Homo sapiens: one gene and its partners. The protein of the gene in region 2 binds, or shares a complex with, the protein of the main gene of each other region. Each region holds a gene or a part of one and is shown on either strand. Other genes may lie near its edges.

Region 1 (7,037 bases), on a different chromosome or scaffold from region 2:
CACAAGCCCACAGCTCTCAAAGCCTTCAATCACACCAGTCCCTGCAAAGTCCAGGAACCCACATCCCAGGGCCAATATCCGTCGGATGCGCCGGATCATTGCTGAGGATCCTGAGTGGTCACTGGCCATCGTGCCCCTCCTCACAGAGCTCTGCATTCAGCACATTATCAGGAACTTCCAGAGTGAGTCTGTCCCTGCTTTAGGTGGGCAGGAGAAGGCCAAGAGGGGGGCTAGGTGGGTGGGGACTGTCCGGAGCCAAGACTGCAGAAGCTGGGTCCTGGGGCAGCCCCTGCTCTCCCGTATGGCATCCTCATACCCACTCAACACTTCCCTTCCACCCAGGGCCAAGACAGTTTCTCCTTCTGTTCCCACTGGCAGGTCCCACCAGACTCCCACCCACACTGCACCCTCCATGCCTCTGCCCTCTCCTTGCCTTTTCTACTCTCTCCAGCAAAACCCAGCCTGAGCCATATCTACTTCCTCCTCCAGAAAGCCTTCCCAAGTGAACCGCCCTCTACTCTGATGGAGTCTTCCATGCCATGTAAGGGCTCTTGGTTTGTTCCATATTTTGTGCTCTGTAATATTGATCCTTTCCAAAGATGGACTGCCAGCCTCTCCTACCAGATGGGGCGCTGTCTGAGGACAGGGCCATTATTTCATCTACAGCAACTATCATCACCCAGTCTCACTCATTTTACTTGTTTATTGTCAGCCTCCCCTCACTGGAATGTAAACTCCAAAAGGGAGAGCCCTGTTTGCTTACTCTTCTATCTCCAGCACGTGGGACATAGTAGTCTCTCATAGTGCTACCTCCAGTGTCTGGCACATAGTAGGTGCTCAAAAAATTTCTTGTTTTGAAATGGATGAATCAAATAAGATTGGAAGCCTCTGACCTCAGGGATTGTATCCCCCATCAGACCAGGTGATAATTGAGAGTTGGACCTGAGAGTCTTCCTCAGTCTGGGAACTCCCTGAGAACAGATGCTGAGATGTCCACCTTCAGGCAGGGAACATCCCAAAGCTAAAGGCTGTGTCCCACCCTCTGCTTGAGCCCCCCTGAGAGCAGAGGCTGTCTATCCCCTAAGCAGGGAAGGGTCTCTCCTTTGCCTGGTGCTCCCAGGCAGGCCCAGCCTGAGGCATCATGTTGAGGTGTCCCCCAACACTGTGACCCCCTGCGCTCCTTCCTCTGTTCCCAAAGAAAACCCTATCCTGAAGCAGATGCTCCCGGAACACCAGCAGAAGGTCCTGAACCACCTGTCCCCTGACCTACCACTGGCTGTGACCGCCAACCTGATAGACAGTGAGAACTACTGGCTCCGCTGCTGCATGCATCGCTGGCCCGTGTGCCACGTGGCCCACCATGGCGGCAGCTGGAAACGCATGTTCTTCGAGCGGCACCTGGAGAACCTGCTAAAGCACTTTATCCCAGGCACCACAGACCCTGCGGTGATCCTCGACCTGCTGCCGCTCTGCCGGAATTACGTGCGCAGGGTCCACGTCGATCAGTTCCTTCCGCCGGTGCAGCTCCCGGCCCAGCTCCGGCCGGGCGACCAGTCCGACTCAGGCAGCGAGGGAGAGATGGAGGAGCCCACCGTTGACCACTACCAACTGGGCGATCTGGTAGCTGGCCTGAGCCACCTGGAGGAGCTGGACCTGGTGTACGATGTCAAGGACTGCGGCATGAATTTCGAGTGGAATCTCTTCCTCTTCACCTACCGTGACTGCCTCTCCTTGGCAGCCGCCATCAAGGCATGCCACACCCTCAAGGTACTGTCTGCTCCCAGCCTTCCCCCCACCCCTTCTCAGCATCTCTCAGATTCCCTCTCCCCTCCTCTTCCTCCTCTATTATTGCCTTCTTCCTATTTCCTTCTCTTTCATTGGCCAAGTGTTTTTTAATGCACCCTGCACCAAGATACACGGTTCTGGGGGTGTAGAGATGAACAAGGCGCTGCTCTCCCAGTTCACCAGTTGGTTTCATTGAACAAACAGCTGCGCTCCAGGCCCTGTCCTAGGTGCTGAAGATTCAAGGATGAGCAAGATTATCATTTGTGCCCTCTGTAGCTAACAGTCTGATGGGATAAAGGCACTAATCAGCAATCATATAAACATAAAATTGATACTAGAATAGGGTTGCCAGATGTAGCAAATAGAAATACAGGACATCCAGTTAAATGTGAATTTCAGGTCCAGGCACGCTTGTAGTCTTCCAGAGACTGAGGAGGCTGAGGTAGGAGAATCCCTTGAGCCTCGGAGTTCAAGCCTGCAGTGAGCTGCAATCACACCACTGCACTCCAGCCTGGGTTACAAAATGAGACCCTGTCTCCAAAAATTTTGAATTTCAGATAAACAGCAAAGAATTTTTATAAGTATGTCCCGAATATTCCATGGGGCGTTCTTATTTATCTGAAATTTATTTTTAACTGGGCATCCTGTACTTTTTTCTGGTACCCCTGAATTGGGATGAATGCTATAAAGAAGAGATACTCTTATGAGAGATTGTAAAGGAGCATTTGACCTTGCAAGGGAAGGCTTCCCTGAACAAATGTCACTTACATAGAGATTAGAAGGAGGAGGACGAGTTACAGTCTCAGAGGGAGGAGCGTTCCAGACAGAGGGAGCAGTGCATACAGGCTCTATGGGCAGAGTGAACATGGCCAGCTCAAAGAGAAAGAGAAGACTGTGTGGCTGGCGCAGAGTGTGAGGTGGTCAGCCTTGCTGGGTGAAGGAGGCTTTGTCCAGGAGGCTATCTTTATCCTTAGGAGCTCTGGGACACCATCCAAGGGTTTTAGGCAAAAAAGTAGGTACCATTACTGGATTTCACATGTGAAAATGTCACTCCGTCTGTGAGGGAGGATGGCCTGGGCAGGGCAGCAGTGGACATGCAGATTACCTAGGAGATCACTGCCAAATCCAGGTGAGGGTGAGGGTCATTTCAGCGAGGGTAGTGTCTGTGGAGACTCAAAGGAGTGGAGAGAGTCAACACATATTTAGGCAGACATGTGTCTGGCATGCACCTGGCCACACTGGCACAGGGAGGATCTGAAGGAGAAGGAAGGAGAAGGAGGTGAGGTGCAAGACCTCTGGCTTGTGAGGCTGGATGGCTGGAGGGACCATGTGCAGAGACAGGGAATGTGGGAAGAGGATCAGTTTTGAGGGGGAAGAGTGTAAGTTTCAGTTTGAGGCATCTCAAAGAAGGGGTCATTTCGTTAGTTGGGTAGAGGGTCCGAAGCTCAGATGAGAGGTCTGAATTGAATGTGGGAATGTGTGCCATCTTCATGAAGGTGGCAGTTGCAGCCCTGGGTTTGGATGGAGTCTCACAGGGGAGAGCCAAAAGCAAGACAACAAGAGGCCTGGCATGTGGTCTCAGTGGAAGAAGAAGAGCTTGCCAGGAAGCCAGAGGGAGGAGGAAATGGGGAAACATGGCATTGTGTCACAGAGCAAGGGAGGGGTATGTTTCAAGTAGAGGGAGTGAGCAACGGGGTGGAATAGAGCTGAGGACTGGATTTAGTGAACATGGAGGTCACTGAGGGGGAGCTATTTCAGTGGAGTGGCAGGAGCAGAGGCCAGATAGCAGTGGTTTCTGGGGAGAGTGGGAAGTGAGGAATGGGTGGCTGTGATCAGCTTTTTCAAGAACTTGGCTGCGAAGGGGAAAAGGTACAGCCATAACCGATGAGAGCTTTGGGTTCCTTCAGAATAACTCACATATGTTTAAAACCAGTGTAAGGCTCCATCCAGTTGCAAGAAAGGGGATGAATGTAGAAGAGAGGCACGGGTTCATAGACCAATAAGTCAGTGCTTGGTATCAGGAAAATGACAGGTTCCCATTCAATGACTGAGAAGGCAAGAGGAGAGTTCACCTGCTGAAAGAGGGGGCTCAGCAAGGAGGCCCCTGAATTCTGAGGAGGCTGCAAAAAGCTGAAATAGTTGTTGTAGATTATAAGAGGGTATTTTGGCCAGAGAAATATAGTTAGATTGGCATGCAGCGTTACAAGCCTATTGGTGTTTCCGGTGATAGCAACCAGTCCCATCAGCTGATGTTTTCTATTTTGTCAGTTGCTTGCGCACAGGCATGCAGAAAATAGAGAGTGGGGCTGATCCAGGGTTAGGGCTTTGCCAGAGAGACGCAATGAAAAGAGAAGAGACACAAAGGACTCAGCTGGGTAAGAGGGGTATAAAAAGGAGTGAACCGAAGGGTAGAGAGAGAGAGGCCAGACACTCAGAGGTCTCAAGGGAGAGAGAGGAGTGGGACAAGCCAGCGGGAAGGTGAGGGGGAGAGGTTCCCATGGACAATATTCATACTGCCAGCCCCATCCCCTTTCCTTCATTCCTTTATCTCATCCTTTTCCTGCTTCTCCACCTCCCCACTGTCTCCCTGGTTCTTGCCCTGGCAACCTCCTTCAAAGAGGTCCTCTCCTTGCCCTGGTGGATCTTGGCTGGGAGAGGAGGATGCAGTGAGGGGCTGAGGCCTCAGGCAGGCTTGGATTCCAAACCTGTCTCAACTGCTTCAATCACTGCATTACTCTGGGGAAATAATGTAAGCCTCCATTTTCTGTCTGTAAAATGGAGAGAACTTTCTCTTCTTCATCGAGATGCTGAAGGTTAGAGATAATGGTTGTGAAAGACCCAAGCGGCCGGGCGCGGTGGCTCACGCCTGTATTCCCAGCACTTTGGGAGGCTGAGGCGGGTGGATCACGAGGTCAGGAGATCAAGACCATCCTGGCTAACACGGTAAAACCCTGTCTCTACTAAAAATACAAAAAATTAGCAGGGCGTGGTGGCGGGCACTTGTAGTCTCAGCTACTCAGGAGGCTGAGGCAGGAGAATGGTGTGAATCCGGAAGGTGGACCTTGCAGTGAGCCAAGATCACGCCACTGCACTCCAGCCTGGGTGACAGAGCGAGACTCCGTCTCAAAAAAAAAAAAAAAAAAAAAGATAAAAAAGGAAGACCCAAGCAGCATACCCAGCATGTAGTAATTGCTCAATAAACAGTGATCTTTCCTCCCTGCTACCTGCCACCAATTCTACACTACTCTGCCATGCTGGTAGGCCTGGCCCCCTCCAAGACCCAGCCAGGTGGCCAACACTAGGTGAGCCAAGTTTGCCAAAGATCTAGGTGGGCAGGCTGATTATCCCTGGCTGGCAGTTGCTGTAGACCCTCTGCCTGCCCACAGATCTTCAAGCTGACCCGAAGCAAGGTGGATGATGACAAGGCACGCATCATAATTCGAAGCCTTCTGGACCACCCAGTCCTCGAGGAGCTGGACTTGTCACAAAACCTCATTGGAGACCGTGGTGCACGAGGTGCTGCCAAGCTGCTGAGCCACAGCCGCCTGCGTGTGCTCAACCTGGCTAACAACCAGGTGCGTGCACCCGGTGCCCAGTCCCTGGCTCACGCTCTGGCACACAACACCAACCTCATTTCCCTCAACCTACGTCTCAACTGCATCGAGGATGAGGGTGGCCAGGCTCTTGCCCATGCCTTGCAGACCAACAAGTGCCTCACCACGCTGCACCTCGGTGGCAATGAGCTGTCTGAGCCCACCGCCACACTCCTGTCACAGGTGCTCGCCATCAACACCACACTCACCAGCATCAACCTGTCCTGCAACCACATCGGGCTGGTGAGCCACCTATTCTGGGCTTGTGAGGGTGGGTGTGGAATCCAACTGCCAGGGGTACTTGTGGGATAATTGTGAAGATCACAGAGTTTACATACTACATACTGCATCAAGTATGCACACATACTGTGTATCCCAATGATTATTTTTCCTTTAATCCTTACAGTTACCTAAGTAACTGTATATTAACCCTAAGCATATTTAACCCTAAATATATTTAAGTATATAACTAAGTATATTTAACCCTACTTTCTAGATGGAAAACTAAGTTTCAGAGAGGATAGTGAGTTGCCCAAGGGCATCAAGTCAGTAGCAAGTGGCAAGGCTACGATTCAAACCCAAGATTGATTGAAAGCCTGAGTCCTTTCTAATAGACTGTGTCTCTAAAACTTTCTTAACCAAGTCTGAGAGTAAGAAATGCAATTTACGACCAGGCACAGTGGCTCACGCCTGTAATCCCAGCACTTTGGGAGGCTGAGGTGGGTAGATCACCTGAGGCCAGGAGTTCGAGACCAGTCTGGCCAACATGGTGAAACCCCATATCTACTAAAAATACAAAAATCAGCCCAATGTGGTGGCATGCACCTGTAACCCCAGCTACTTGGGAGCCTGAGGCAGGAGAATTGCTTGAACCCAGGAGGCGGAGATTGCAGTGAGCTGAGATCGTGCCCCTGCACTCCAGCCTGGGTGACAGTGCGAGACTCCGTCTCAAAAAAAAAATGCAATTTACATGAACACTGACATAAACATAATATTGAAATTTATGACGTGATATATGCTGATATTTTCCTTTACATTCCATTCTATTGTATTTTTTAAAATGCTTCTGTGACCCATTAAATTGACTTTGCAACACACTACTGGGTCACAACCACAGAATGGTAGCATTCTGCCTCCCAACGTGAAATTCTTTCACATTGGGGCTAGCCCACCCAGCCCAGCAGGGGTTGGAGCTGTGATGACCATTGAGCAGGGCCCTCCATTAGGTCACTGAACCCTCTACTAAACCTCCCCATGAGAACAGCCTTGCTCACCTACACAGGCACATACACGCACACACACGTGCATGCGCGCACACACACACACACACAGTTTCTAGAGGGGGTGCTGTTGACTGCAAGTAATAAAAAGCTTAATCAGAAATGGCTTAAGCAGGAGGAATATTCAGTGTCTCCCACAACCAGAATTAGAGGGTTGTAGGGTCGGTAAACCCCTGGGTTCAGTGCTACCCTCTGCTCTGCCCACCCCAGTCTCATGGCCAATGCCTCGCTAGTGCTTCTGTCAGTCCCAAGATGGCTGCCACAGTTCTGACATCTCATACAGGGACATGCCCAGAGGCAGAAACCGGGAGAACACCTGCTCCCTTTTCTTCTCTTTTTGGAATGAGGAGAAGCTTCCCAGAAGCCACCCTCTCTCAGC
Region 2 (7,037 bases):
GGGCTTAGGTGGCAAACTCCCAGTTTCTTGTTGACATTTTCAGTGCAATTTAAAGATGTTAATTTAAAAAACTACCTGTGCTGTAGAGATCAGTAACCCTCAGGGGGCAGACAAAAAGACTGTTACTGCATCAGTTAGAAATGTAGTACTACCTGGGCAACATAGTGAGGCCCATCTCCACAAATAACTAAAAAGTTAACTGGTTGTGGCTGCACATGCCTGTGGCCCCAGCTATTTAGGAGGCTGAGGCAGGAGGTTTGCCTGAGCCGAGGAGGTTGAGGTTGAGGTTGCAGTAAGCTGTAATCACGCCACTGCACTCCAGCCCAAGCAACAAAACAAGACCTTGTCTTCAAAAAAAAAAAAAAAACCATACAGCAAAACTGATGCCTTAGTTGTTTTATTTTAGCATATCCCCAAGAAATCTAAAATATTTAGGAGGCCTGCTTAAAGTGCAATCTTGAACTTTACCAGATTAAAACATGAAGCCAAAGAAAGCTGCCACCTTTCCGTGCACTATTCCCAACCTCCATGTACCTACCATAGGATTGCTTTTTATGAGTGGAGTAATATGGCTTAATTTTATTTTAATATACTGGAATGCTTTGTCCAGTCACAAGTCCCAAGAGCTTCTCATCCCAGTCTATCCAAATGAACTGCCAAAGCCCATCAACATAATCTCCATTCAAATTTTAAGTTTCCCAATCTGCATTGAACAAATGCATAGTATCACAAAGCACTTGGCAGGTGTGGTGGCTCATAACTGTATCCCAGCACTTCAGGAGAGGCCAAGGAAGGAGGATTGCTTGAGCCCAGGAGTTTGAAGCCAGCATAGGCAAGAGTCAGACCCTCTCTACAAAAAATTTAAAAATGACCCAGGGATGGTGGCATGAGCCTGTGGTCCCAGCTACTTCAAAGGCCAAGGGAGGATTGCTTGAGCCTTTGAATGTGAGGCTGCAGCGAGCACCACTACACTCCAGCATGGGCAACAGAGCAAGACTCTGTCAAAGATACTCGCATTAAAACCCGTTCCCTTCTAAATCTCTGTACTCGCCCTGTAATTTTCATCACATGTCTCTCTGACCCCCTTGTACTCCAAAAATGCTGAGCAACCTCTATCATTTTAAGCATGTAGCAAATCAATTTAAGGTAGTAAGTTTTTTAATCCACTTAAAAATACAAGAGCACAAATCCACATTTATTTATTGATTTTTCGTTAGTTTAAATCCTTGAGGGGTACAGCATCTGCAGGGAAAAAAGAACACAAAACATTAGGTGAATGTTATATATACGTCTACAAATCAAGAACCGTAATACGGATAAATCTCTGAAAGGCTACCAATTACATGTTCTAGTGGTAAGGAAAGTTTTTATAGCCTTCAGTCTCTACGTGAACATACCGTAAGAACCGGCACTCATAAAAAACATGTACTGGCCAGGTGCTGTGGCTCACACCTGTAATCCCATCACTTTGGGAGGCCTAGGCGGGCAGATCCTAAGGTCAAGAGATAGAGACCATCCTGGCCAACATGGTAAAACCCTGTCTCTACTAAAAAATACAAAAATCAGCTGGGCATGGTGGTACGTGCCTATAGTCCCAGCTACGCAGGAGGCTGAGGCAGGAGAATCGCTTGAACCTGGGAGCTTGCAGTGAGGCAAGATCCCACCACTGCACTCCAGCCTGGTGACAGAATGAGACTCTGGTCTCAAAAAAAAAAAAAGAAAAAGAAAAACATGTACTGAAGGTACATTTAATTTTGCTTCTTCTAAAGACAGAGTAAAAGCCTCCTCTGTTGATAAACCCTAATGAACCACTTAGCAGGGTTCAACAGTACCCCCTGGCCCCAAGAATACATGGTATGCATATATTCTTGGTCCCAAGAATATACAGTCTACATTCCAAAATGGACCCTAAAGAAAAAGTACGAACTATTTGAGAAAAATTACAGGAGAAAATTGAGAAAAATTTAGAGTCCAAGGCTGGCACCAAAGACCTGAGACCTAGGAACATGAGAGTCTGTTTTCTTCATGTACAAAATAAAGCTACTAACACCTGTTCTAACAAGACTGACATGATGGAAATGGCAAAATATTAACAATTATGCCAGGCGTAACTGTTGAATTGTTGCTTTCTAACAATTACTTCAGTGCCCAATAAATATCTTCACCAGAAAACTATTTATTCAAGGCTGGCTGTGGTGGCTCAAGCATATAATCCCAGCACTCTGGGAGGCCAAGGTGGGCAGATCACTTGGGCTCAGGAGTTCAAGACCAGCCTGGGCAACATGGAGAAACAAAATACAAAAATACAAAAAATTATCTGGGCATGGTGGTATATACGCCTGTAATTCCAGCTACTCGGGAGGCTGAGGCACAAGAATCACATGAACTTTGGAGGCAAAGGTAGCAGCAAGCTGAGATCATGCCACTGCACTCCAGCCTGCGTGACAAAGTGAGACCTTGTCTCAAAAAAACACAACAAAAACCCCAAAAATTAGCTGGGTGTGGTGGCACACGCCTATGGTCCCAGCTACTTGGGGGGCTGAGGTGGAAGGATTGCTTGAACCCAGGAGGTCGAGGCTGCAATAAGCTGTGATTATGCCACTGCACCCCAGCCTGGGTGACAAAGTGAGACCCTGTCTCCCCCCAAAAAAAAAACAAAAAACAAACAACCAAACACCTAATTCTTTCAATTACTATCTCTCCAGTGTTCTGCAATACACAAATTTTGCAGCATAATTTACTGGTGTCAATTTCACAACCACAGAAGTCCTCAGAAGTCAAAGCACAACACCTTGAACCTAGTCTGATTCATCAGACGTCCATTTTGCTAAAAACCATACTCACCACTCGGATTCTGTGTCCAATGGCCTTAGCAGGAAGATTGCTTCGGAATTTGGCACGAACCATGCCACTGTTTCCATGGGCCCGAGTTACTTTTCCCCAGATGACTCTGGTTTTGTTTGGTTTGCCGCCAGGAGTGACTGTGTTGCTGATTTTAAAAAGGGAAAGAAGAGGAATACAAGCTGATATAGTTGGATACAAATTCAAGGTGACCTCTACACGAGTGGCTCTCAACCCTGGTTACCCACTTCATCACCTGAGAAACTTTAAATGCCTAGAACACCATTCATTCAACAGATACTTATCGAGTAACTATTGTATGCCAGGCCCTTCTGTAAAATACAGCAGCTATAAAACAAAAATCTTTCACATGATAACCAAGTAAGTTTAAGGAAAATACATAGGTCAGATGATAACAGAGGCAATATTGAAAAAATAGCAAAAAAGGACAAGTGTGAGGATATTTGTGTGTACAGAAAGGAGGAATTACCTGCCATTTTAAATAGCCAAGGAAGGTCTCACTGAGGTGACCATGGAACAAAGACTGGAAAGGGAGGGGAAATGCCATGAAGTGATCACGGGATGACTAGCGCAGGCACTGGGGCCAAGGAGTGTGTGTCCTGGCCGGAAGAAAGACTGAAGACACCAAGGGGTTAATCCCAGCTGAGATAAAGAGAATTATGGAGCTCTTAATGACGGGCTTTTACTGAATGAGAGAAACTACTGTGGTTCGAGCAATGTACAAAGGATATGACTTTATATATATTTCCTTTAAAGACCACGGGGTTGTCTTGTCACCCAGGCTGCAGTACAGTGGCCCAATCATAGCTCACTGCAGCCTCTATCTCCTGGCATCAAGCAATCCTCCCACCTAGGGCTCTCAAATGCTGGGGCTACAAGTGTGAGCCACTGCACCTGACTTAAAATTTTAAAGGAACACATTGGCTGTAGAAGAAAAGGTGGGGCAATGATTAAAACACTTTCCCAGAGATTTTAATTGGCTTGGAGTGGGTGAAGACAATAGGATTTGCTCTTGTTGTCCAGGCTAAGGTGCAATGGCACGATGGCTCACGCCTGTAATCCCAGCACTTTGGGAGGCTGGGGCGGGTGGATCACGAGGTCAGGAGTTCGAGACCAGCCTGGCCAACATGGTGAAACCCTGTCTCTACTAAAAATACAAAAGTTAGCCGGGTGTGGTGGTGCGCGCCTGTAATCCCAGCTACTGGGGAAGCTGAGGTTGCAGTGAGCTGAGATCACACCACTGCACTCCAGCCTGGGCAACAGAGCAACACTTTGTCTCAAAAAAAAAAAAAAGTCTACAGCATAAACATCTTTAGGCATGCATAAAAACTAATTTTGGCCTGGTGCAGTGACTTGCGCTATAATCCCAGCACTCTGGGAGGCCGAGGCAGGTGGATTACTTGAGGTCAGGAGTTCAAGACCAGAGTGACCAACACTGTGAAACCCCGTTTCTACTAAAAACATAAAATTAGCTGGGTGTGGTGGCACACGCCTGTAATCCCACCTCACTCGGAGGCTGAGGCAGGATAATCGCTTGAACCCGGGAAGCAGAGATTACAGTGAGCTGAGATTGTGCCATTGCACTTTAGCCTGGATAACAAGAGCAAAACTCTGTCTCAAAAAAGAAAGAAAAAAAGAAAAGAAAGAAAAGAAAAAACAAGGGGCGGGGCACCGTGGCTCCTGCCTGTAATCCCAGCACTTTGGGAGGCTGAGGTGGGTGGATCACAAGTTCAGGAGTTTAAGACCAGCCTGGCCAAAATGGTGAAACCCCATCTCTACTAAATATACAAAAATTAGACAGGCATGGTGGCGGCCGCCTGTAATCCCAGCTACTCAGGAGGCTAAGGCAGGAGAATCCCTTGAACCCGGGAGGCGGAGGTTGCGGTGAGCCGATATTGTGCTACTGCACTCCAGCCTAGGTGACAGTGAGACTCCGTCTCCAAAAAAAAAAAAAAAAAAAAAAAAAACCCATAATTTTAAGGCATTAACAAAATGCATTAAGCACAAGTGTTCTAAAAATCCTTAAATTCTGGCAAAAGGAGCCGAGAAAAAAAATTAGAAACCTTAAAAGGATCACAATATAAGGAATTACCTCCTTTATTGCTTACAAGTGCAAAAGGTACCTAAATCCAACACCACCCTCAGAAGTAACGTCCTTCTAAAACTCCCCATTAAGTTCCTTAATGACGCAAAATAGAAGCCACAGCAATACCAATCCAGCCTGGCCAACATGGGGAAACCCATTCTCTAGTAAAAATACAAAAATTAGCCGGGCGTGGTGGCACACCCCTGTAAGCCCAGCTACTCAGGAGGCTGAGGCAGGAGAATCGCTTGAGCCAGGAGGCAGAGGCTGCAGCGAGCCAAGATCGCGCTACTGCCCTCCAACCTGGGCAACAGAGACTCTTGTCACAAAAACAAAAAAACAATACCAAGTACTTCAGCTAAATCTTTTGTTTATTATTTCAATAGGATAATGAGGCCAGGCGCGGTGGCTCAAGCCTGTAATCTCAGCACTTTGGGAGGCCGAGGTGGGCGGATCACCTAAGGTCAGGAGTTTGGGACCAGCCTGGCCAACATGGCAATACCCTGTCTCTACTAATAATACAAAAACTAGCCGGGCGTGGTGGCCGGCGCCTGTAATCCCAGCTACTCGGGAGGCTGAGACAGGACACTTGCTTGAACCCGGGAGGCGGAGGTTTCGGTGAGGGAGACCAAGTCACTGCATTCCAGCCTCGGCAACAGAGCAAGACTCCGTTATATAAAAAAGAAAATGAGGCAGATCTCAAAAACCCAAAACCTACCAGTGTCATAAACTTACTTCTTTGCTTTATATACATAAGCGCATCTCTTGCCCAAATAGAATTCTGTTTCATCTCGGGCGTAAACACCTTCAATTTTAAGAAGAGCTGTGTGCTCCCTTTGGTTCCGGAGACCCCGCTTATAGCCAGCAAAAATGGCCTTGGACCACAGCCTAAGACACAAAAGATACACAACATGAAACATAAGCTTCAAAAAACCAATCTGACTTGTAATCACCCCCACCCAAAAGTTACTCAGAGCAAACATCTAAGTTTTTTCTTGCCAATTTTAAGCTCGCATTTACGTTCACGTCTAACACACAAAAATAAAGAACTATATTTAAAACGCGTACCTTCCAGACATAGTTCCTTTTAGAAGTCCCGTTCCCAGCAGGCCTTAAAACAAACAAAAAGATTAGTTTAAAACCAAGCCACACAAGTTTCCCACCTCGTCCCCTCTCGTTTAAGCCCCTAAAGCAAATTCCTTTTGGATGGGAGTTTCATGTAGGAGTTCGGGGACAACAATGCCAGAACATCCATATGAAACGCAGGGTCCGGCAAGACATTCAAACCTCAGAGAACAGCTGGTATCTAAGCAAACTTCAGAATGAAGACAAAACTAAGGGACAGGAGTCACAAAAATGACTCTCAGAAAAGCCTGAGAAAATGCATGCCGTTATCAGTAGGCAACACTCAGGAAAAGAAATGAAGCCTTAAAGAGAAACACACACGTAAGACTTTTATGCAATGGCTGGGGGAGAAAAGCTGAGGAAAGAGACTGGTCAGACAAGCCAAGGAAGGTATGGACTGGGAGGAAACGGATGAAGGAAGCACTGCCTCATGGACAACTGCACACGAACAAAAACATCGTTTCACTCCGTTCAGGCCCAGGAATTTAACTGGGATAACCCGGGCAGCCGTTCTCCGGGTGTCAGGGGACCAAACACCATCAGCCCAACATCTCCTCCATCCTGTTCTCCCTCTTCTTGAAACCCGTAGAAATCAATGGCTGGCAGAGACTCCGATACGCACCGGCGACTCGCCAAGGCACAGGAACAAACCTACTCCGGTTATTTGCCCCCAAATTTCAGCAGCAGACCCTTCACTCACCTCCACAGGAGCCAAGATGGCGGTAAGAGAAGGACGAGGCCCCGCCGCGTGGCCTTGTGGGATTAAACATCTTTCGACTCCGCCCTCAATTTAGGCATCTTCTCCAAACGCCAGAAAAACAATCCTCGGAAATCGGCTTCGCACTGAAATAAGCCACATTCAATAGCACTCTTACAATTATTTTCCTAAGTCCTTTCATCTTGGTAGGCTGCAAAATGTACTACTTGGGAACAAGGGAAGGCAAAATGGTAGCCAGCTAAATCCGCC
Region 3 (7,037 bases), on a different chromosome or scaffold from region 2:
TTCATTAAAGTTTTCCCTGTATATTTAACCTCTTCTGAATTTCATCTACCTGTCCTAAATAAAACCTGATTTTCTACCTACAATATCATTTTCCTGCAAATCTCTTGAATAGAGACTGATTTTTTTAAAAATCAGGCCTGGCTTGGTGGTTCATGCCTGTAATCCCAGCACTGTGAGAGCCCAAGGCAGGTGGATTGCTTGCCAGGAGTTCAAGACCAGCCTCGGTAACATAGTGAGACCCTGTGTGTACAAAAATTAAAAAAAAAAAAAAAAAAAAGCTAACTTGTCTTAGTGGCTCACACCTGTAGTCCCTGCTACTCATGAGGCTGAGAGGAGAGGATCACTTGAGCCCAGGAATTTGAGGCTGCAGTGAACTATGATTGCACCACTGAACTCCAGCCTGGGTGATGGAGCAAGACCCTATCTCTAAAAAAATAAAAAATTAAAAAACATTTTAAACAATCCTGCTTGGTCCCCTGGGCTTACTGAATCTGTTGATAGATATTTTTCATCCGTTTTAGAAAATTCTTGGTTCTTTTCAAATAGTACTTCTATTCAGTTCTCTCTTTTCCTTTTGGAACTCCAATCGTACATATGTTAGCTTTTTTTTTCTTTTTCTTTACCTTGTTCTACATGCCTCTTTTGATCTCTTCTGCTTTTTCCCCATTTTCTTCTTTTTGAGCTCAAGTTTGGATCTTTTTCATTGATGGTTTTCAAGTTTACTAATTTTGTTTTATGCTGTGTCCAGTCTACTCTTAAATACATCAAATGAAATCTTAATTTTAGACATGTTTTTCAGTTCTAGAATGACAATTTGATGTTTAAATAAATTCTGATTATTAGAATTATGCATCTTTTCATTCAGTTTGCCTTTTTCTGTTTTCTTTATTTGTTCTCTCCAAATCTGTTAAAATTTGATCCCCAGTGTTGGAGGTGGGGCCCAGTGGGAGGTATTTGAGTCATGTGGGCAGATCCCTCAAGAATGGCTTTGTGCCCTCCCCTGTGATAATTAGTGAGTTCTCCCTCTATTAGTTCACCCAAGAGCTGGTTGTTTAGAAGAGCCTCCCTCTAGCTGTTTCTCTTACTCCTTCTCTTCCCATGTTACATGCTGGCTCCCTTTGCCTTCTGCAGTGAGTAAAAGCTTCCTGAGGCCTTCGCCAGAAGCCGAGCAGATGCTGGCACCATGCTTCTTGTACACCCTGCAGAACCCTGAGCCGCATACAACTCTTTTCTTTATAAATTACCTGGCCTCAGGTATTTCTTTATAGCCGTGCAAAATGGATCAACACACATGTTGATGGTTGTTATTTTAAAATTATTGTTTGTTGCTTATGCCTGTAATTCTAGCACTTTGGGAGGCCGAGGTGGGTGGATCACTTGAGGCCAGGAGTTCGAGACCAGCTGAAACCCTGTCTCTACTAAAAATACAAAAATTTGCCAGGTGTGGTGCACGCCTGTAATTCCAGCTATTTGGGAGGCTGAGGCATGAGAATCGCTTGAACCCAGGAGGCAGAGGTTGCAGTGAGCTGAGATCACACCATTACACTCCAGCCTGGGTGATGGAGTGAGACTGTGTCTCTAAAAAAATAAATAAATAAAATAAATACATAAAATTAAATCATTGTTTGTTAACTTGAATATCCAGATCATTTGTGGGTCTGCTTCTATTGCTTATTTTCTTCTGTTGATAATTCAAGACATTTTCCTGCCTTCATACATACCTAGTAATTTCTTTTTTTTTTTTTTTTTTGAGACAGAGTCTTGCACTGTCGCCCAGGCTGGAGTGCAGTGGCGGGATCTCGGCTCACTGCAAGCTCCGCCTCCTGGCTTCACGCCATTCTCCTGCCTCAGCCTCCCGAGTAGCTGGGACTACAGGCGCCTGCCACCATGCCCGGCTAATTTTTTTGTATTTTTAGTAGAGACGGGGTTTCACCGTGTTAGCCAGGATGGTCTCGATCTCCTGACCTCATGATCCACCTGCCTCGGCCTCCCAAAGTGCTGGGATTACAGGCGTGGGCCACCGCGCCCAGCCCATACCTAGTAATTTCTTATTTTTATTGGACATTGTGTGAGAAAAGAACAATAGAAGTTCCAGATGATATACTCTTTCGCCAGCAAAGGTTCGTCCTTTCCTCTGTATAGGGTACAGAGCTCATGACCTCAGTCCAGGAAGGGACTGATCTGTGTTGAGCTTGGACTGTGGATTTATTTGGGTTCGGTTTACATCTGGTTCATCCCTATTCCTCAGGCATAGCTCTTCTGGGCTTTTGATTGAGAAGCTAGCCAGTCTCTGTCTCCTCAGACTGAAAGATTGTGAGAGATTTGGTTCTGCTCTTCGGAGGTATTTAAGCTTAGCTCTTTAGTTTCCCTTCTAGGCCCTCAACTTTTATATATGTATATATATTCCCCAATTTAAAACTTTTAAAAGTAAACTTTAATATCAAAAATGCAAACTTGGGGAGGGCATAAAAATCACACACAAGGCTGCCACTTCACACTTCGAGGGTTGCACAACGGCCGGGCAAAGGCGCTCCTCACTTTCCAGATGGGGCGGCAACCAGGTAGAGGCGCTCCTCACTTCCCAGAAGGTGCAGCGGCTGGGCAGAGGCGCTCCTCTCTTCCCAGACTGTGGGGCAGCCAGGGAGAGGTGCGCCTTACTTCCCAGACAGTGGGGCGGCAGGGCAGAGGGCCTCCTCACTTCCCAGAGGGGGCGACAGCCAGGCAGAGGTGCTCCTCACTTCCCAGGTGGTGGGGCGGCCGGGCAGAGGTGCTCCTCACTTCCCAGACGGTGGGGCGGCCGGGCAGAGGCGCTCCTCACTTCCCAGATGGTGGGGCGGCTGGGCAGAGGTGCTCCTTACTTCCCAGATGGCGTGGTGGCCGTGGGCCCTCAACTTTAAAATCTGGCAAGTACATTGAAGGTTATGCTGGCTGTATGTTTGAGGCAGGCTTCCTCTTCCTTCCCTGAGATTATGAAAGACTCACTCTGCCTTGTAGGAGTTGATGTTCTAGCTCCTCAGCCTCCTGTGTGAACACTCCCAGAACTCACTGCCTTATGGGAGACAGTGGCCACACTTGGGGCACCTCAAGTTTCTAACCTGTCATGTTACCCCCGTGCCACCACCATAAGCCTATTGGTTTCTCTTCCCATTTGTAGACTTTCTCTGCCTGGGCCCAGCCCTGTCCTCTTTCCTACCCAGAGCTGGCACACGTTCCCAGGGAAAAAAAGCAGCTGTGCATTGTCAGCTCACTTCAGAAAAATTTCCTTCCCCTGGAATTCCATGGCTCGCCAATATCTTTTTTAAATGTGATTTTTGTAATGTGTCTGTTTTTTTCTAGTTGTTGTAGCAGGGTCATTGGACCATGGTGACTTTCCACATCCTACTCAGATATGAAATCCTAGGGAGACTGTCTTGTTTCACTCCTCAGTTTACCTCAGATCTAGAGATAGGTTAGGTGTCTTCCTTGGCTCCCCATTTCCACTTCCAAACTATGTATCTTCCCTCCTTTTTCTAAAGTCTCAGCTTCTTTGTAGTTCATAACATCAGATTTAGCACTCACTGTCTTCATTATGTACCAATCTCTATGTTTTGTTGGTAGCATTAGCATCTGGCTCACCATCTTCCTTTTTCTCTACTCCTGTCATTGTTCTTGTGCCCGCAGTATTCACAGGGATGTTCCGTTCACATCCTTGACCTTTCTTCCAGTTATCTTTGCTTTCACCGTTCCTCAGTCATGTCCTTCTATGGTCATACTCTTAACCATTTTATCCTAAATTGCTGTACCATCTCTGAAATCTCCATTTCTTCATCCACTTATCTCTTAATTTCTTAGCTCACTCACATTGGAGCTTCTACACTAGCACTTCTTCAACTGACTCAAACCACCATTTCATTCAATTATCTTTGCACTGTCAAATATTACTCTTATGTCCTTATTTCTCTCTTTACCCATCTTAGATTCCTTGGTTCATCATTATTGTGGATGTCTATTACCTAAATGTCTTTACAACATTTAGTGATTTAAAATAACAGTATTCATTTTATTATTGCCTCTCACAGTTATGGGAGTTGACAGAATATTATTGCTTGAGATCCCTCATGCACTTACATGTCAGAGTGGCTGAGGTTAAAATCATCTTGAAGGCTTCCTTACCTACATGCCTGGCAGTTGATGCTGGCTGTCGATGAGGACCTCTCCTGAGACTGACAGGTAGAACATCTATGTGTAACATCTCCATGTAGCTTGAGCTTCCTCACAGCGTGGAGGCTGGGTCCCAAAACAGGTGTCCAAGAGACAGAGCCAAGTAAAATCTCCTTTTATAACCTAGCCCCAGAAGTTACTCAACATCACTTTCACTGTATTCTCTTCATTACAAGTGGATTATTAAGACTAATCCATATTCAAGAGGAGAGGAATTAAACCCCACCTCTTTATGTAAGAAATATCATTTGCAGACATGCTTTTAAAATGCCACCACACCATCATTATGATCACTTTCAAATACGATTATCTCCTTTACCTGTTTCTCCCTCTGTCCTATTGATGTGACAAACACCCATCCCTGGTAAAACTCAAATATCCAGCAGTCCGTGCTTACCCCTGAGCAACTGAACATTATTTAAAGGAAGAACACACAATTAAACTGAATTGTGTCACTTTAAATTCAATCCTCAGTTGTCAAATGGGCTCTCAATATCCATAGTCCTACATTTCCTAGTATTTTCAGTTTCTGACAATTCCATTACACCCACAGTGAAAGAGTAGACAAAAAAAAAAAAATTCTTGGGAGGCCGAGGCGGGCAGATCACCTGAGGTTTGGAGTTCAAGACCAGCCTGACCAACATGGAGAAAGATCACTAAAAATACAAAATTAGCTGGGCGTGGTGGCGCATGCCTTTAATCCCAGCTACTCGAGTGGCTGAGGCAGGGGAGTCTCTTGAACCCAGGAGGCGAAGGTTGCGGTGAGCTGCGATCACGCCATTGCACTCCAGCCTGGGCAATGAGAGCGAAACTCCATCTCAAAAAAAAAAAAAAAAATCCTCACAAAATTCTTCCACTGAATATTAAAAAATCAATTGCATTTCAATTCACTAGAACCAAAGTTTTAAACAGTAGCTTTTAAAAATTACATTCATAGGCTGGGCGCAGTGGCTCACGCCTGTAATCCCAGCGCTTTGGGAGGCTGAGGCGGGTGGATCATGAGGTCAGGAGCTTGACACCATCCTGGCTAACAAGGTAAAACCTCGTCTCTACTAAAAATACAAAAAAAATTAGCTGGGCGTGATGGCGGGCGCCTGTAGTCCCAGCTGCTCAGGAGGCTGAGGCAGGAGAATGGTGTGAACCCGGGAGGCAGAGCTTGCAGTGAGCCGAGATCGCACCGCTACATTCCAGCCTGGGCAACAGAGTAAGACTCTGTCTCAAAAAAAAAAAAAGAAATTACATTCATAATAGCCACAAAAAATATAAGGTTTCTTAGGACAAGATGTGAAAGACCTGTTTGGAGGAATTTGTAAAATTTTATTGAAAGATGTTTAAGGTGACCTAAAGAAATGAAGTACTCTGCTGTGTTTATGAATGGGAAAATAACAACATGTAATGTCTTCCCAGAAAATGTATAAATTCAATGCAATTTTAGTTAAAGTCTAAAATTTTTTTCCCCATAAAACTAGACAGCTGATTATAATACTGCAGAAATATTGAGGAGGAGAAAAGTAGCCCTTGACACCTAGAAGCTGGACTGGTGTCATGATCTAGACCTTGGCATTGCTTTGGGCTAGCATGTTGTTAAGCCTTGTCAGTGCTGGAGGGACCCTGGAGGGAGAGGGACTTCAGTTCCTGGTTCCTGTGTGCTTCCTCACTTCTTGTTCACATGACACAGCTTCCAGGAGCATGTGTGTGGTGCACCCAGTGGTGCCCACTCTTCAGCAAGTTTTGCTCACCAGCCTCAGCCCATTGGCACCCCAGCAGGGGGCGTCTGCTCACTAGTGTGAGCTGGTGGGGTCCTGTTCACCAAGCCTTGGACCATCATGGCTGAGAACTATCTCTGTCTCAGGGCAACCTAATGGACTTCCCCACTATACCTCAGCCACACTCCACATTCTCTGAATCTCAGCCTTGGGGAGGTGGCTGCCCTCCTTCCAAGGTTATTTCATCTTTGGGTACTCTGTCTGAGCCACAGGGTGTCCTTTAGTGTTCTCTTTTGCTCTTAGTAGTTACTCTCTTTTTACTAGTTAGTAATTCTTTGAATTGCATTCTTTATTAGAATCTCTTTATGAGATAGAATAAATTGTTCTTTATTCAAAACACGGGTGTGATTTCTGTCTCTTGACTGGACTCTGAGTGATACAGGAGGATTAACTGGAGAGGGACATGAGAACTTTCCGGAGAGTTGGAAAGAAACCACACCCGGGGTGTGGGTATTTTCATTATCAAAATTATACTAATAAGATTTATGCATTTGAAATAATATAAATTTTACCTTAAATTATAATTGAGAATAGGTAGAAATGGGTAGATATATAGATGATACAAAAATCACAGAATAATTATTGTTGAAACTGGGTGATAGGTACATAAGTGTTCCCTATACTACTGTTTCTAAATGTTTGAAATTTAAAAATCTAAAATGAAAGATAGTTATGGCTAGGCTTTTTTTTTCAGAATGTATGTTGCTAGGGATGGATGGAATGACAGATTTGATTTGGCTGTGTAGTCATTTTCTGTTTGTTTGGTGTGTCAATTATCTATTGCCATGTGACATGCAACCAGTTAAAGCACTTGGTGGCTTACAACAACAGGAATCACTTAGTTTGCTTAAAAATTTGAAATTTTGGCAAGGTTTTGCAGGGGGTGGAAGATCCACTTTTAAGATGATATCTTCTTTTGCATGCCTAGCAAGTTGGTGCTGGCTGTTGGCTGGGAGTTCAGCCAGGTCTGTGAACCAGTAGGCTTGGTTCCTCTTCATCTGGACCTGCCCATGGGCTGCTTAGACTTCCTCACAGTATGGTAGCTGATTTCTAAGACCAAACCTCCCCAGA

Evidence for each region. The genes of interacting proteins can lie anywhere in the genome.
Region 1: DRC9 (region 2) and DRC5 share a complex: the UniProt entries of both Homo sapiens proteins name them as parts of the nexin-dynein regulatory complex.
Region 3: DRC9 (region 2) and FBXL13 share a complex: the UniProt entries of both Homo sapiens proteins name them as parts of the nexin-dynein regulatory complex.

The regions. Positions count from the first base shown.
Region 1 is NC_000006.12:44,280,694-44,287,730, reverse strand, and holds part of DRC5 (dynein regulatory complex subunit 5), read left to right. Parts: coding exon 1-182; intron 183-451; exon of another isoform or gene 452-541; intron 542-1,198; coding exon 1,199-1,767; intron 1,768-5,171; coding exon 5,172-5,621; intron 5,622-7,037. UniProt on the Homo sapiens protein: Component of the nexin-dynein regulatory complex (N-DRC) a key regulator of ciliary/flagellar motility which maintains the alignment and integrity of the distal axoneme and regulates microtubule sliding in motile axonemes.
Region 2 is NC_000003.12:197,949,955-197,956,991, reverse strand, and holds part of DRC9 (dynein regulatory complex protein 9), read left to right. Parts: intron 1-381; exon of another isoform or gene 382-1,218; coding exon of another isoform or gene 1,219-1,242; intron 1,243-2,844; coding exon of another isoform or gene 2,845-2,989; intron 2,990-5,680; coding exon of another isoform or gene 5,681-5,833; intron 5,834-6,013; coding exon of another isoform or gene 6,014-6,024; exon of another isoform or gene 6,025-6,056; intron 6,057-6,692; exon of another isoform or gene 6,693-6,802; intron 6,803-7,037. Other genes in the region: RPL35A (large ribosomal subunit protein eL33), read right to left, coding at 1,219-1,242, 2,845-2,989, 5,681-5,833, 6,014-6,024. UniProt on the Homo sapiens protein: Component of the nexin-dynein regulatory complex (N-DRC), a key regulator of ciliary/flagellar motility which maintains the alignment and integrity of the distal axoneme and regulates microtubule sliding in motile axonemes.
Region 3 is NC_000007.14:103,064,792-103,071,828, reverse strand, and holds part of FBXL13 (F-box and leucine-rich repeat protein 13), read left to right. Parts: intron 1-7,037. UniProt on the Homo sapiens protein: Substrate-recognition component of the SCF (SKP1-CUL1-F-box protein)-type E3 ubiquitin ligase complex.